2 separate regions of the Homo sapiens genome follow, and region 2 is linked to region 1. Evidence: fine-mapped expression QTL. Tissue or cell type: blood mononuclear cells. Region 1 holds a variant in brackets; the other region holds the start of a gene. All regions are shown on one strand. Distances are between the middles of the regions.

Region 1 (8,102 bases):
TCTCTTCTTAGGTAGACAGATACGATGTTAATAACCTTTTTGGTTTTTTTTTTTTTTGCAAATGGGAAAGCAGATTTAGTTGTCCAGGGTCTACACAGAGTTCGCATAAGAGCTGGGAATAAAATGCTTTTCCAAGGCTCTTTGAGCCAGTTTATTGAGGGCAAAGAGCCAGGGAGGAGGGTGACAGAATGACAGCCACAGAGACCAATGAGAGGGAGGCGCCTTCATTGACCAATCAGCTCCTTGGATGTAGGCCCTGCCTACACCACACCCAAGTCTAGAATAAACCACATCGAATTTCAGAGGCAATCACAAAGTGTACACAGCACACTTTTGTGTACTTTCATAGCAGCACAGCAAACCAAAACCCGTTTTGGGTTCCACTCCACTTTTAAGGCGTCGCATCCCAGTGGTCTTTCCACCATCCTCCCCCGCCATCCAAGAAGCCCCTGCGCTTACCCGGTAGTGATGTCATCATCCTCCGTCATGGTCTTGCCCATGAGGTCACTGTCGCTCATGTAGCCGGACTTGAGGTCCACCTCATCCGAGTCCAGGGATTCGACCAGCTCCAGGCGGGAGATATGGCTGAGCTTGCTGGGGCTGCGCATGGGCATGGTGTGGGAGTAGTGGGCCCGTTCGCCGTGCATGTACCAGGCGGGCGTCCCCTCCGAGCGGCAGCTCCCACCCACAGAGGGCGCGTCACCAGCCTGCAGCCGCGGACTGGACTGGCCATAGCGCCATGACAGAGGGGACGAGCGGTTGGAGAGGCTGGACACGCTGCGTGGGTTGGCATCATCGCTGTCGTAGCAGGTCATCTCCAGGGAGCTGGGTGGAGAGCAGAAGGCACTACTTAGTCCTTGGCACAGCCGCCGTGTGCCCTGTCCCCTCACATGCACCCCAGCAATGCCTCCCCTCCACCCACAGGCCCTGTCACCTCCTCCCCACCTGCCCAAGCTCCACCTCCTCCATGAGGCCTCTGGTTGTGTGTTACCTTTGTGATACGTTATCTGTTTGACAAAGGAAATGATCTTAATTAAGTGGCTAGGGAAGAAATCCTGTATACTGTTAAGACCCTAGATTGTGTAATATGACCTAGGTTTGAATTCTTTTTTGGTATTGGTTAGTAAAGGAGCCCAAGGAAAGTAAATAACTAAAGCTTCAGTTTCCCCATCTGTACAATGGGGATAATGGCATAACATCTACCTTATAGAGTTGTAAGGATCACATATGTACAGACAGAACACAGTGCCTGGTATATGGAAGGGGTCAACAGACCTGGAGGCAAGTGGGAGAGACTGGTCACTTGAGCTTAGAAGGCCTTGGTCATTTTGTTAATGGTGTGTCCATCACCTCTCTTCTAGTAATTAGCTGAGGGCTAGCTGATTCCCAAACATCATATATAGGAAAGCTGAAGTAGAGTGCAGAGAGTATAGGAAAAGCTTTGGGAATCTGGGATGTATGGCAGGTCCCCAGTAAGACTGGTCCAAGCCACAGGCCTAGGGCAGCAGGGGAAATAAGCCTCCCCAGAGAATAGAAGCAGCCTTAACTGGACAAAGGAGAGGACACAGGGAACCAGACATGGGGGTGAAGCCAAATGTCCAGAGTCTCAAGCCTCAGGCCCTGCTAGACCAGGCCAAGGGAGCAATGCCCAGGTGAGTGCTGGATGGCCTGAGACTAGGGGAACCTGGGGGACTAGGGAAGGAGATAGGGCCAGGCGGGCTGCAGAGAGGAAATACAACTGGAATCTGGTTGAAGGGGTGGCTTGGACTTGGGTTCAGGCTGAGACCCATAATTCCATCTAGCCTAGCAGTGGGGCCAGCCCAAATCAGCCTCAGGCAGGGTCTCCATAACTTATCCTAATTAAGCCAGACAGGACTAAGTAAGCGAAACGGGGTTTGGTGGCCAAGAAAGCTGGGGCAACTGAGGCAATCTGTGGCTGGACATGAGTTACATGAGCCCAAGCAATCACTGCTCTGTGAACACATCCATTGCTTAGCCACTTTGGGGGCTGGAATGGGAGTGGGACATTGATTTTTCCATTCTGGTTTCTATCAAGTTCCTTGAAAAGAAGAAAAATTTCCAAAGTTGTCTCTATTGGACCTGAGAAAATACGGTCTTATTTTCTAACCAGCAGAACTTGAGGGATCCAAACGCTCTTGAAACTGAGTGTGCTGGGGTCCTGGCAGTAGTCCTGTGGGCAAGATGGGGGAGGCCCTGGCCAGTCAGGGCAATCAGTGGCAGCTGCTTCTGGCCCTCTGGAGGGCTTCCTGACCGTGTCCATGCCCAGCGGCTCCCCTCCTGGCCCTGCCAACTCTTTTTACTTATTTACTTATTTTTGAGACAGGGTCTCACTCTGTTGCCTAGGCTGGAGTGTAGTGGTGCAAACACGGCTCACTGCAGCCTTGACCTCCCGAGCTCAAGTGACCCTCCTGCCTCAGCCCCAAAGTAGCAGGGACGACAGGCACACATGAGCACATCTGGCTAATTTTTGTATTTTTTATAGAGATGGGGTTTTGCCATGTTGTCCAGGCTGGTCTTGAACTCCTGAACTCAAGCAATCCTCCCACCTCGGCCTCCCACAGTGCTGGGGTTACTGGCGTGAGCCACTGCACCCTGCTTCTGGCAGCCCTTTAGGAACCCCTTTGTGTTCTGCAGCTCTGCCTCATACAGTGTCTTGTTTCGGCTTCTAATTACTGTGGACCTAGACATCACATCTCCTTGGACAGAAACCGATGTGCCCCGAAGCCAGAGACTGTAGTGATGGTGCGACTTTGTCTGCCTTGCTCACTCACCACGGTATTTCAGCACTTTGCATGGCACCTGGCCTAGAGCTGGTGCTCTAGAATGAATCAAAGAGGAGCAAACCCACGATGGATGTGTGAGTAAAAAGCAAGGAAGTTCTCATCAGAAAACTCAGTCCAGCGCCCTGTGCAGTAAGTGCTTGATAAAAGCAAGCTGACCTTGACCATGGGATGAGACAGGGGAGGAAGAGGATGATGCTAACCATACTAAGAGGGTGGCGGGGATCTCCAGGGAAGCTGGTTTGGGTAGTTAGCCTACACCATGGTTATATACTAGTGTGGGAGTGAGGGCTGCACTCAGCATCTGGGTTCCTCAATTCTATTCCTGGCCTGCCCCTGTTTAGTTATTTGTACTAAAA[T/G]TGCCTCTTCCCCTATTCCACAGCTCTCTCTTTTTTTTTCAGTTCCCCCAAACACATCTCTAGACATCTCTAGACTTAAGCTTGGTGAGGGGGATTCTAGCTCAGATCCTCAGTTCTTGAATTCCAGCCCTGCACCCACCCTTCAGGCTTGCCTTTCTCTGGGGAGGACACAGTTTCATTTCCTCTCCAGCCACAGTCTGACCCAGACTCTCCTCGCTGGGGGAAATGAACCAGTAGAAATTGAGGAAGCAGCACAGGAGTAAAGGCTTCTGAAAAGGAATGGAATCCAGTTATCCTGGGAGTTCCTGGGTGAAAACAGCCTTGCAGGAAGCACACACTGGACCATAAGCTCCGAGGATGAAGCTTGTGTGTGTTCTGGGGAGCCAGTGCCCAGCGCTGTGCCTGGCACACAGCTGGCATGGGTTCTGAGCATGCAGAGTACAGAACCTACCCTCATCAGCCAGCGTGACTCTGGCAGGTGCCTCCCTGCCCCCAGCCTCATTCTCTAACCCAGGGAGTATGTATATATCCTGTCTACTTCCAGGGCTAAGGGAAGGGCTCATTGATAGAAAGCCCTTTAAAAAGTAAAAGAGCCGGCAGGGCGTGGTGGCTCACACCTGTAATCCCAGCACTTTGGGTGGCCGAAGTGGGTGGATTACCTGAGGTCAGGAGTTCTAGACCAGCCTGGCCAACATGGTGAAACCCCATCTCTACTAAAAATACAAAAATTAGCCGGTGTGGTGGCACGCACCTGTAGTCCCAGCTACTTCAGAGGCTGAGGCAGAAGAATCGCTTGACCTGGGAGACAGAGGTTGCAGTGAGCTGAGATCATGCCAAGGCACTCCAGCCTGGGAGACAGTGAGACTCTGTCTCAAAAAAAAAAAAAAAAGAGCCATAAAAAGTCAGGGAATCATTGTTTTGGCTACCAGTGTGGAACAGGAATAATATAAACCAAAGCCTATGAGAGGAAGTGGCTCTAGGTCCACAGTAAACAGAAAAACCAGCTCCGGGGCTCTTGGTTCCTTTCCTATAAAGGGAGGCAGAAGCCAGAGGCCCTAGACGCTCCCCCTAAACCAGTCAGCATTATGCAAAAGGCTTGATTGAAGCCTCCCCTTTCCCACTAGAAGCAGAAAACCAATAGCGCCTGCCTAGGGTCAAGCTGTCCGGCTTAACGGAGGGACTGGGGGCTGGCTGCTCTGAGTCAGTGGCACCAGGAGGCTGGAGCTGCTACTTCTCTCCTACTCCTGTGAGTGAGTCATTTGGGGTGTGGCCCTCTCAGCAACTAAGCACTTTCTGGTGTCTTTGGCATGAGGCTGGTGGGTGACTTGGTGCTGAGAGATGTTCCAACAATTTCCTTGGATGGGGGAAGGCAGATGTCCAAGATTTCATCCGCTGGGTCCTAAACTGATAAGCCAAGCTCTGCCAGATCCCTGCTTCACTTGGGCTCCTGCTGGGGGCTTGGGGCTATGAGGGATGGCAGTAAGGGACAGATGTAAGGGGGTCCTGGAGCCCCCACCATCCACCTTTTTCCAGGACTTCCTTGGTCACCTCCCTTTCAGTAGTCAGGGTTCTGCTGGCCTGAGCAGAGGTAATCCCCAGAGAGTTTTGATTTATCTTACCATTTAAAATACTCGAGATGTCTGGGAGTAAAGGGCTGAGTGTCCAAGATGCGGGCATGGGCTGGGGATAGGGGGAGGAGTAGTACAAGGAAGGAGAAGGAGAAGGGTCATCTAAGCAGGAAGAACTACAGCCAACGGCTGAAAGCTACTTAAGACTAAGTGCAGTTCCACATCAGAGTTGCTGCAATCCCACAATGCACCGGGGTGACTGAAAGGTAGTGAGTTGGCCGGGCGCGGTGGCTCACGCCTGTAATCCCAGCACTTTGGGAGGCCAAGGCGTGTGGATCACTTGAGGCCAGGAGTTTGAGACTGGCCTGGCCAACATGGTGAAACCCCATCTCTACTAAAAATACAAAAATTAGCTGGGCGTGATGGCACACAGCTGTAATCCCAGCTACTCGGGAGGCTGAGGCAGTGGGCGACAGAATGAGACTCGGTCTTTAAAAATAATAACAAAATATTTTTAAAAAGCCTATGTTAAAAATAAAAAAAGAAAGGTAATGAGTTCTTTGTCATTGGTGGTATGTAAATATGTCCATGGGTGTGGTCCCATCCTCAGAATCCCAAATGGCCACACCCTGGGCTAAAGAAAGTCCTTTTCCACTGCCCCTGTGTCCCAACTTTGCTCTTAATTTTCCAGCCCCAGGAGTTGGAGAGGAATCTACTTCCAGTCTAACTGGGGAGGCTTCCTAGCCCTCACACAGCCTTCCTGCCCCACACCCCCCATGATTTCCCAATCTGGCTGTCTGTTCTGCCTCCCGCTGTCCCCAGAGCTTAGCCCAGCCCTCTGCCCCACTTGGAGCTGACAGCATGAGCTCATCTGGGCAGTCCAAGGAGCCAGCAAGGGAAATTCTGAGTCACAGCAGAGCCTGTGGCCAGGACTTTGCTCCAGAGAGAGGTGCCGTGGGAAGGCTGAGTGCCCCATGCAGCTGGAGGCTATGAGGTCTCTGCAGGGAGTGGGCTAGGGGGACACACCTAACAGGGCATGGAGCTGGGTGACACTGTGTGGGCCCTGTTGAGCACTCAAGCCTCCCTCAGTGGCTCGTAGAAGAGGCCAGGGGGCACCTAACTGACACAAGAGTGAAAAGACCCAGGTGTTGAGAAGGGAATTGATTCTAGACCCCTAGTTTAATGGAGACTTAGGAACAGGAAGAGAGCATTTAGTAAACCTTCTCTTGACAGATTGAGGAGACAGAGGTCTAATGAAGGAGACTGACTATCAAAGATCACACATTGAGCTGTGTAATGGCTTCCACTTCCTGGCTCCTAAGCTAGTGATTTTCAAGCTGATTTGCTGAAATGAAATGAAATGTTCAGGCACAAGCAGACAGAAGACAAAGCCAAGCTTCTCTTGTTGAGATAAATGGATTTCCTCCTCCTTCTGCAGTGGCTCCACGCATCAGGCCACCTGGCTGACCTGGCAGAGGTGTGGAGGGACCCGGGGGCCCTGCCCTCCAGAATGGGGTGGAGAGCCAGGAAGGCAGAGGGCATGACCCTCTCTGCAGCTCGAGCTTACCTGTGAGTCACCTGGGACCCTCGCAGGCTGGACATGGTCTCTTCCAGGTTCTGCCGGAGATCCAGGACATTCTGCACTGTCCTCTTTCTCTGGGACTCTGGGTCTGGTAGGGAGAGAAGGAAGAGCTGGGTGAGTGAAGAGAACTTAATGCTGGGATCCTGGGGGTCAGGAAGTGGAGATTGACAGTGTCCCCAGGAGGCTAGTCCCTGGGCCATGATAGTCACCTTCCTCCTCCCTTTCCCAAAGACAACCAACAGAATGGGCCCTCTCAAAGGCCCTGGACATGTGCCATTGAGCCCTCTGAACCCCAGATCCTGGCAGGGGGTACAGGCATGGCTTTCTGTGTCTGTGCACTCCTTTCAGAGCCCCCAAGGAACTGCCTCTACCTCTGGCTTTGTTTTGGGGAGGCCCTGCTTCTCATAGCAGAGGTCCTGGGCAAGATTTCTCGTGGTTGAGATGAGCTGGAACATCTGCCTGAAACCCCCTATCCAGGGTTGTGCTGGTAAATGTTTAACAACTGGCTTTCGGAGGAAGGGGACACCGATGTGTGGTGTTTGCCAATTTCCCTGGTATAAAGCCTCCTATCATGGCCACTTTCAATCTACCAATCTGATGTCACTGACCACAGAGTTAGGAAGAGGGGCTAACAATTGGCTCTGGGGAACTGGTACAAGCTGGCTTCAGTACACCTAAACCCAGGCACTGACTGGTAATATCTGGGGTTGCTCTATGGGGTCCCAGGAAGTTAGTTCAGATATAGTCTCCTAAAGGTGAGGTGGCTGGTGGGAGGTGGAAGGGATGAGCAGTCATTTTCTGGAGCTTGAAGTGAGCTCTGGGCAGTCCCCACACAAGTGGTGCAATCCTGAGTGAGAAGGATGCATGGGTGTGGCCCAATCCTCAGAATCCCAAATCACCAAGAGCCATTGTATTCAACCCTGGTGTCCAGATATTAGCCTGGACGGATGAGAATCTACAACAGCAAACAGGGTGAAAATAACGTCCAAATGACTGAGAGGTGCTTGAGCATGAAGGAACTCAAAGAATGTTCTTCCTTCCTTCAGTTCATCCAATGAATCTTTATCAAGCACTTACTTCACATCAGGCACCACCCTGGGCCCTAAGGACAGTATAATGAAGAGAAGCTGGCCCTGCCCCATGGCTTATCTTTCATTTTGGAACCTAAAGTCATGAATGGAACCAAGTCCCCCAGTACCTCCCTAAAAGACAATCTGCAGGAGAGAGTCAGGGAGTGACAGAAAGATGATGGCAAAACAACAGAGAAAACCCAAGAACTCTGGCTCTCCAGGCTGCTCCCTTTTCCCCTCCATCCGCAAGCCTTCTGCCGCTGCTGCAGAGGCCAAACGCCCCCTCAGTCCCTCCTCAGCCCACAGACTCAGCAGGAGTGTAAGGTTTTTTTTAGCTGCCAAAGGGAACATTTCTGAATCTCTTCAAGAGGTTTTTATTCCCCCAAGACTAAGCTCAGGCCGGCTGGCAGGCAGCTGCTTGACTGTCTTGTCAGGGAGGGGAGGCTGGGTGGGGCGGGCAGGGAGCCTGCAATGCCCTCTCCAGAGCCTTTTGGGCACCTTTTCTGAGAACCAGCTCCACACCCAAGCCCAGCCATCCCTCCTTTCCCCTCCCAGGGGGAGCTTCTCCACCCCCACATCCTCTCATGGTCAGCACCATGAATCCAGGCCTCCATGCTGGTGGCAAGGATCAGGGACAAATGGCAGGCCACCATGCCAGTGGCCTAAGCTCTATCCCCAGTCCTGGCATCACTTCCGTGGCCGCCAATGCCTATTTATCCTGG
Region 2 (8,102 bases), 180 kb after region 1:
GTGGTGCTAATGTGCAACCAAGATGGAGAATCCCTGAGCTAGAGGAAATGAAGCCCGCGCTGAGGCTGGGCGTGGTGCCCTCTGAGTCTCAGGATGACCAGCAATCAGTTCATCTCTGCATCAGGGCCAGTGGTGGCCCCTCCGGCTGGAGGGAGTTGGTGGGAAACTGGAAGACAGGAAGATACAGCCCTTTAACCCTTTAATGCCTAACTTCTAGTTATTAAAAAATGTTCACAAATTCATAGAGATGGGAAGTAAAATGGCGGTTGCCGGGGCCTTGGGGAGGAGGGAAGGGGAATGGAGAGTTACTCTTTAATGAGTACAGAGTTTAAGTTTGGGAAGGTAAAAAAGTTCCAGAGATGGCTACAGGTGATGGTTATACAACAATGCAAATGCATTTAATGCCACTGAACTGTACATTTAGAAGTGGCTAAAATGGTAAATTGTAGGTTATACATATTTACCACAATATAATTGTTAGATGTTTAAAGTACACTAATTATAATGAAAAGTATAATTAAATACATCAACCCATCCTAATGTAAAATGTTAGCACTTAGTCAAATTTTGTTGTCTTTTTACAGGGGAAAAAAAAATGAAACTTTGCAGATAAAAAAAAAAAAATTCAGAGGGATTTATCCCAGGACTAAAAGAGTGATTCAACTTAAGAAAAACAATCAGTGTAAGGCACCACACTAACACAATGAAGGAAACAAAAAACAAGCCACAGGATTATCTCGAGTGATACAGAAAACAAGCATTTGACATAAAATTCAACACCCCTTTGTGATTAAAAAAAAATGATTAGAAAACTAGAAATAGAAGATGATTTCCTCAACACAAAGGACATTTATGAAAAGCCCACAGCTAACATCACGCTCACTGGTGAAAGGCTAAAATCAAGAAATCCCCCTAAGATCAAGAACAAGAGAAGGATGTCTGCTTTCACCACTGCCACTCAACATTATACTGAAAGTTCTAGCCAGAGCAATTAGGCAAGAAAAATAAATAAAAATCATTCAAATTGGAAAGAAAGACGTAAAACTATTTCTATTCACAGTTGACATGATCCTATGTATAGAAAATCCCAAAGAATCCAGAAACAAAAAAGCTACTAGAGCTAATAAATTCAGCAAAATTGCAAGGGACAAGATCAACACACAAAAATCAGCTGTGTTTCTACACACCAGTAATACACAAGCCAAAAAGGAAATTAAGAAACAATTCCATTTATGAAAGCTTTCAGAGCATCTGAGGATTGGATATCAGAACAGTCTTGCAGTCTTTTGAAGTGGAATCATCTTGTTAGTAACGGTCCTTGGCAGAGGCACATGCATCAGAGCCTTTAATTTTATATGCATATTAGTGCATCTCATATTAAAATTAAGTAGAGCAAATAGATTTGATGGGGTGGTAGTGTGAACTGCACAGGACATGTGTAAGAACCTGAACCACATCCACAGGCAGGTCAGAGTGGCCTGGGTCTCAGCCATCCTGCCTCGCTTCACGTCTCAAGAGTCACAGGATGCTGGGAAGCAAAATCGCAGGCCTCTCGGAGGAAATCAGGCCTGAGTCAGCCTTCCCAGGAGGTTAAGGGAACAGATGAGGCCCAGGAAACGGTTTACTGTGGAGGGTGTTTTTCGCTAGACTAGTTGGAGGGGTATTTTTAAGTTGAAGAAGGAACTAAAAGTGTTTTTAATTATTATTTTTTGTGTGTGACTAGGGGCCAGAAAGACGAAGTGTTTGCCAAGTATTGCCACATTTCTTAGCTCTCCATGTTCCAGAGACTCGAAAAGTTGATAGATGCTTCCATCACAGAGATAGCTGTCTTGACCCTAATATGTTTCTGTTCCTCTCTCTAGCTAAGAGGTAAGTAACATCTGCTGAGATGGAAACGCTAGGAAGATAAAAATTCCCAGTGATTTGCTGAAAGGGAATGAGCCCTAAACTGAAAGCCAGGAGCCCTGCATTCTAGGCGGGCTTCTGCAGTACCCCAGTTGTGTAGCTCTGAGCCCATCCCTTCCCTTCAGTGGGCCTTGATTCTTGCCTGTAAAGGGGAGAAGAGCAGGGGTTGGGAGGAGTGGAGATCCTTTTAACTTTGACATTCTGGTTTTTCTTAAAGGCCAAACCCTTCAAGAAGTCAAAAGAACTTTAAAAGAAGAGGGAAGTGACACTGATTGGAAATAGGAAGGCAAAAATAGAGACAAATTGTAAAAGATGGATAGGAGATTTTTCTATTCTAGGCCACTCCTTTCTACTGGGCCCAAACTGAGTTGATACCAGAGGTTCACAGGGACTCAGGAGGGGGCTAGATTAGGCAAGAAAGGAAAAACAGCACTCCTTTAAAAAAAAGATGGAGTTTCACTCTTGGCCCCCAGGCTGGAGTGCAATGGCATGATCTCGGCTTACTGCAACCTCTGCCTCCCGGGTTCAAGCAATTCTCCTGTCTCAGCCTCACGAGTAGCTGGGATTACAGGCACCTGCCACCACACCCGGCTAATTTTCATATTTCTAGTTGAGACAGGGTTTCACCACGTTGTCCAGGCTGGTCTCGAACTCCTGACCTCAGGTGATCCGCCCCTCTTACGGGCATGAGCCACCGCACCTGGCCAAAACAGCATTCTTGTTTTCAGTTTCCCCAGGCCAAGGTTTATCAAAGAAGCCAGATCCCAGAAAAAGCCCAAATATTCAAAGCTTGCCTACTTACCCATGGGCAAATCAACATTTTTATGAACTGCTTTTGAGGGAAAAAGAAGTAGAGGGGGTCTGGGGGAGCAAATTAACTCCCAAAGAATGAATAAATGGCACTTAAATGAGATAGGAGGCCTTTGAATGCTACTTAGTTTTTCTCCCCAATTCTATTAGTTTGGCAAGCATCTATAAAGTGCCTACTGTGTGCTGAGTGTTGTGGGTGGTCAGATAGGGTGTTTGGCTGGAAGGTACTCACAGGAAGATAGGCATGTGCACAAACACCCAAATATCTAAAATACAAAGCATGGCACACTGACAATCAACAAAAACAAAAAATGCAAAGCAGAATGTGAGACCTGCCCCAAGGGAAATCAGATAAACTGCTGAAGAAGTTCAGATCAGGGGCTGTTCTCTTTCACCCGGAAATGGTGTTCTCTTTCACCTGGTGTTCTCTTTCACCTGGAAAGTTCAGGAAATAGACCCTAGGGGCTGGAGCCCAAATCTGAAAAACCTTCTTTATTCTTCCAACCGTAGCGATTTTTTCCTGGCTCCACTTTACAGAAGTGAAAACCAGGACAGAGACATGAGGAATTATTTGCTCTCTGATCATCCAGGTGGTTAGCAACACAGCCAGATAGAGAACTACAAACTGATGATTGAAAACTTCCCCTAAAAACTGATGGTGAAAGCACATACTACTAGGAAGCTCATCTTAGAAGACAAAATCCATAGAGCTGTTCCCTCTGTCTCCCTTCTTAGGTCAATCCCAAAGACACACCAACAAAAAGTCAAAGCAGGATTTAAAAAAATGTCATAAGCAAGCTGGAATCATATATATCTCTGGCCTAAAGGAAGCCAAGGTCTCTGCAGTGTCAGATCGTCAGATCCTCCTCCTGGGGAGGCCATTCTTTTTGCGAAGTCTCCAGTCCCATTACAAGTGAGTTGCCGGGGACTTCATGTAGGGGGAACAAGAGCTAGCCCACAGATGAAAACCCAGGCAAGCCCTCTGCTTTTGCACAGTGAACGAACGTGCCCACAGGCTTCTCAGCATTGAATTTGAACGAGCCAATGGTATCCCAATCATTGAAACAGGAAGCCAGATAAACAGCATGTTATCAAGGGGGGATCCAGCTCTTCCCTTAAGCCGGCGCCAGCTGCGCCCTGTGACTATCCTAACAAAGTCCCATTGACTCACCAGCTGATTTTCCTGTGTTCGGCTCCAGGGGACAAGGAACCCTCTCTGCCGGGTGGACGTCACCCCTACACACCGCCCCCGCCACCCGCCACTCGCGTCCTCTCCAGTTCCTGCCTCCCCTCTGCCCGCTGCAAACTTAGCTGCTTCTTTATCCTATGACCAGTTTTTATCGGCTCTGGGGATTAGCAGGGACCAGAGCCCAAGCCTCGGGAGCGCTCAGGTGAGCTCCCCGTGATCACCCAATTTCTGCGTTCTCCTCTCTCCCCTCTCCTCCGGGACCACTTTCTCCGCTCCCAGACGCACTGGGCGGGCGCCAGAGAGGACGGCCTCCGGGAGATTGGCGGGAGGGCGCTTCCCGGCGCATCCCGGGGGTGCGGGGAACGTTTTCTGGAACGGCCCGCGAGGTCACCTGCCCCAGCTGTTCCTCTGGCTCCTGCTGGGATGGGAGGAGTTAACTCTTGCTTCAACGAAAGGCAGAGGTGCGGGTAGGGTGTGTGCTTGCCGTGTGGGTGCGAGTATAAGAACGCAGCACCTGGTGTCTCATGATAAGATCTCAACGCACTTTAAATTGTGGGTATTTCACAACAAGGAAACTGAGGCTCAGAGGGACTGAAGTTAGGCAGCCCCCCCGGAGAGTCAACTCTAGAATCAAACGCGCAGTCAGTCCCATAGGGGTCGAAAGGGCACACACCTTCCCGGGAAGCCGCGAGCATCTTGGTTGTTATTTATTCCAGCGCCTCTCCCGAGCCCAGCCCACAGCCTCCCTCGGGCACCAACCTCCCCTACCCCGAGACTTGGTCTCGGCCTCGCAGGACCTGCCAGCCAAGCCTCGCAAAACGGGAAGCGCCAGACCCTCAGCGCCGCGACCGCGCGACCGCCCCGCGCCGGCCACTCACCGGAGCGCCTGCCCGCCCGGGCTCCGGGTCCGCGCCGCAGCCGCGCAGAGTCGCGCATCCCCAAGGGCAGCGCGGGTGCGGGGTCCGCTTCTCGCGAGCACAAAGTTTCCCGGGGCTCCCCAGGCCGCCTCGGCCCCTCGCACCAGGCTTGGCGTCCGCCGCGCACTCCAGCCTCGGGCCCCGCACTAGGGCAGCCGCCGGCCCCGGCCCCACAATGAGGAGGGAGGCGGCATCCTGAACAAAGTGCCGTCCCCTCGGGAACGGCGGCCGGGGCGGAGCCTCGTGACCCGCTGCCCCAGGCACACGCCGGCTGCCTCCACGGCGGGCCCAGGAGGGGAGTGCCTGGCGGCCGGGGGGCGGGCAGGAGGAGAGAATCCGTCCGATCGCCCTGGCTTTCCTCCCCCTGCACTGTGCCAGTTTAACCCGCAGAGGGGCGGAGGCATGGGTCCCTTCCAGACTTTGTCATTGGAAAGCTATTCCCGTAACCCTTTGCTGCCTTCGCCTTCCCGTCCCGCCTCCCAGGCTGGCCGCAGAAAGGCGGCTGCTCGGTGGCGGACCCGCGAGCTGGCAGGGCAGGAAGCCTTTGCACAATTGAGCCTTTCCTTTGCCCGGGGACCCGCCACCGCCACTTCCAGGCCGGGTTTCCTCCCTCCCCCACATGTCGTCCGGGTACCGCTCGCTGGTTCAGCCGCAGTTCTTTAGGAGAAGGGGACAGATGGATGGGCCAGCCTCTCCACCCGACTTCTGACCCCGGGCACCCACCTCCTTTCTTTCTCCACCCCACTGAACTGTCATGCTGTCTGAGCTGTCTTAGAGGAGGGGGAGGCCCCGCAAGTGCCCCGCAAATAGTAGGTGCTCAGTAAAATAAGTGACTTCTCCCCACCTTCCAGACAGCCGATGCCCCTCCTCCTTCTTCCAGGGACTTGGGAGTGGGAGGAGGGGGAAGAAGAGGAGAGAGGAAATGACAGGACCTGAGGAGAGTGAATGGGAGGAAGGCCCTCAGCCAGAACCTACTGCAGAAGCAGTGCAAGCCCCCTGCCTCCTGGCTTGGGGACTTCCAGGGTCTGCAGGAAGAAGGCAGAAGGAAGCCAGATGACCTGAGCTTTGAAGCAGGCTTTGGAAAGGGAGTAGCTGTGGCCAAGGACCCAGCAGATTCCCCTGCTCCTGCCAACAAATAAGAGGACTGATCTATTCCCAGGGCCATGGGGTTGCAAGTTGGAGGACTGATGGATAGAAAGCAAAACTGCCTACTCCCTGGGAGGTCTCACAGCTCTTTGCCAGCAAAATCAGTGTGAGCAGAGTCAGGATGAGAGCCCTTGAGTCCTCCCTGAACGCCCCACACAGTCAGTAAGGCCACAGTGGCTTTGAATTTGGAGAGATGAGACACCAGACAATGGACAAGCAGTGACATTCAAGAAGTTCCCAACTGATCAGGGAAAAAGATTTGTTGTATGATTTTTGTCCATGAAGGGAGTGAACTGCCTTTTGGCGCGGGATAAGGGGGTGGACTGCAGAGTGACACCCTTACCCTCTGTATAAAGACTAGAAGTGTGGGCTCTTAAGGCAGACTGCATGAGTTCAAATCCTGGATCAATGATTTTTTAGCCATGGGAACTTACTGAACTCTTTAACCTCTAGCTACCTCAGTTTCTTTATCTGTAAAATGGGATAATAATGGTTCCTATCTCCTAAGAGTGTTGGGAGGATTAAATGCGATACTATAGGTGACACACTTAGAATAGTGCTTGGCACATAGTAAATGCTCAGTGAACATTAGCTGTTACTTTGATCTTGGAGTAACTAACTCTTGGAGATCTAACTCTTGGAGATCTAACTCTTGGAGATGTAACTCTGCGCCCAGTTTGGCATTCAATGATGTGCTAGCTAGAATCCTTTTGTGCTCTTCCCAGTCCTGCAAAGGGGAGCCTAGTCCTTTAAGAAGAAGCACTGTCCTTTCTTGAGAGCTCAAAAGGTGGGACCCCAGGGACCAAGGACCACACAGTAGGTATGCAAATGACTATCAGAAGGTGAAATGACTCCTTGACCCATTGTGAGGCTGGATGCATAGCCCCCATCCACATTGGTAATGCTGGGATGATGTCATTCCTTGGGTGCTACCCAGAATGGAAAAGAAAGCCAAAGCTATAATTTCGTAAGGGTTAGATCTCTTCTATCAGTACACAGGATCAATATTTCTCTCCCACTTATGAGTGGCTGCTCATACAAGTTCTCCCTCACCCTGCTCCTAATGTCCCAATCAATATGGGTGACGGGATCATTTGTACCCCAAGCCTCAGCATCACACAATATACCCAGGTAACAAGCCTGCATATGTACCCCCTGAATCTAAAATAAAAATTCAGAAAAATGTCCCACTCACAGATTTCCAACAGTGAACCTGTATGTGTAGGCAAACATAATAGCATATGGACAGGTTGAGGGAGGAAGGAGTAAAGGGGCCAGTCTGGTTGGGGTGACAGGCAGAGGATATGAAAGCTACTGAAAGAGAAAGTGGATAGGACAGAGCGGCAGGGAGGAGAAGCCAGAAGAGACTCTGGACAGAGCACTGTTTGGGTAAGAAACAGGGTCCCGCCCATCCCAGAAGTGGCCTCTGCCAAATGCCTACTTTGTGAGTAGTTTTTGTCTGAACACAGTGATGACTCAGTTGCTCTGAGTCTAGCAAATGGATTTTCCTTAAATATGAAAATCAATAAGAGGTAAAGGCAAGGACCTCGCTGTGGGGAGGGGAGGATGGAGAGAGTGGGAGAGGTGCTGGGGCGTGAAATGATTTGTGAGTGATGGAAGGAGGGAGATTCAGGTTCACTGCAGGAGACCCTTGGCATAGTCACCTGTACCCCCACTCCCCACCGAGAAGGTGGCCTCCAGGACCTGCTGGCCTCACTGAGGCTCCTTAAAACCCAACAGCCCCTCTGTTCCCCTCCTCCACAGCTTAGAGCCAATCCTGCTTTGGGACAAGATGGGTAGCGAAAGGATTAATGTCAACCTGACAAATAAGTTTTAAAAAATCAGCCCAGAAGCTTGCTGTCACTCCCATAGAGTATCAGATCCGGCCTCCGACGAGATGAGAGTTTTGGGAACCCCAGGAAGTATGGCAAGTGACATTTTCAGCCCCAGCCTGATTTCTTTGGGGGCTTTGCCTGTTTTCCTGCCGCCTTGAGGTCTGTGGACCAATGCTAATTTGTTTCTTGGGTTATCTGACATGGGACTTTGAGGATTTGAACACACTCACAGCTCCTGCGTTCCACGTGGCCCACAGGGAGACTGTCTTTATCCTTCGGACTGTCTTGTTTGGGGCTCCC

What was found. PIP is the estimated chance that this variant, and not a neighbour inherited with it, causes the effect.
Region 2: NAV1 starts here. The variant in region 1 is fine-mapped to the expression of NAV1 in blood mononuclear cells (TOPMed, PIP above 0.99). The same link has a PIP of 0.9 or more in monocytes.

What each region holds. Positions count from the first base shown.
Region 1 is chr1:201,711,113-201,719,214 of GRCh38, reverse strand. NAV1 (neuron navigator 1) reads right to left here. Exons shown (of 34, transcript NM_001389617.1): 6 at 6,296-6,398; 7 at 460-825. The region is part of intron 2 of IPO9-AS1 (IPO9 antisense RNA 1); the gene reads left to right. Among named protein-coding and RNA genes, the nearest start is that of MIR5191, 4.3 kb to the left of the region's middle. RefSeq lists enhancers at 5,460-5,754, 5,598-6,286. The variant T/G (reference allele first, on the strand shown) is at 3,161.
Region 2 is chr1:201,536,023-201,544,124 of GRCh38, reverse strand. It overlaps NAV1 (neuron navigator 1), which reads right to left and starts at 4,998. Exons shown (of 34, transcript NM_001389617.1): 1 at 4,783-4,998. LOC124904484 (a long non-coding RNA gene) reads left to right here and starts at 3,980. Exons shown (of 2, transcript XR_007066793.1): 1 at 3,980-4,106.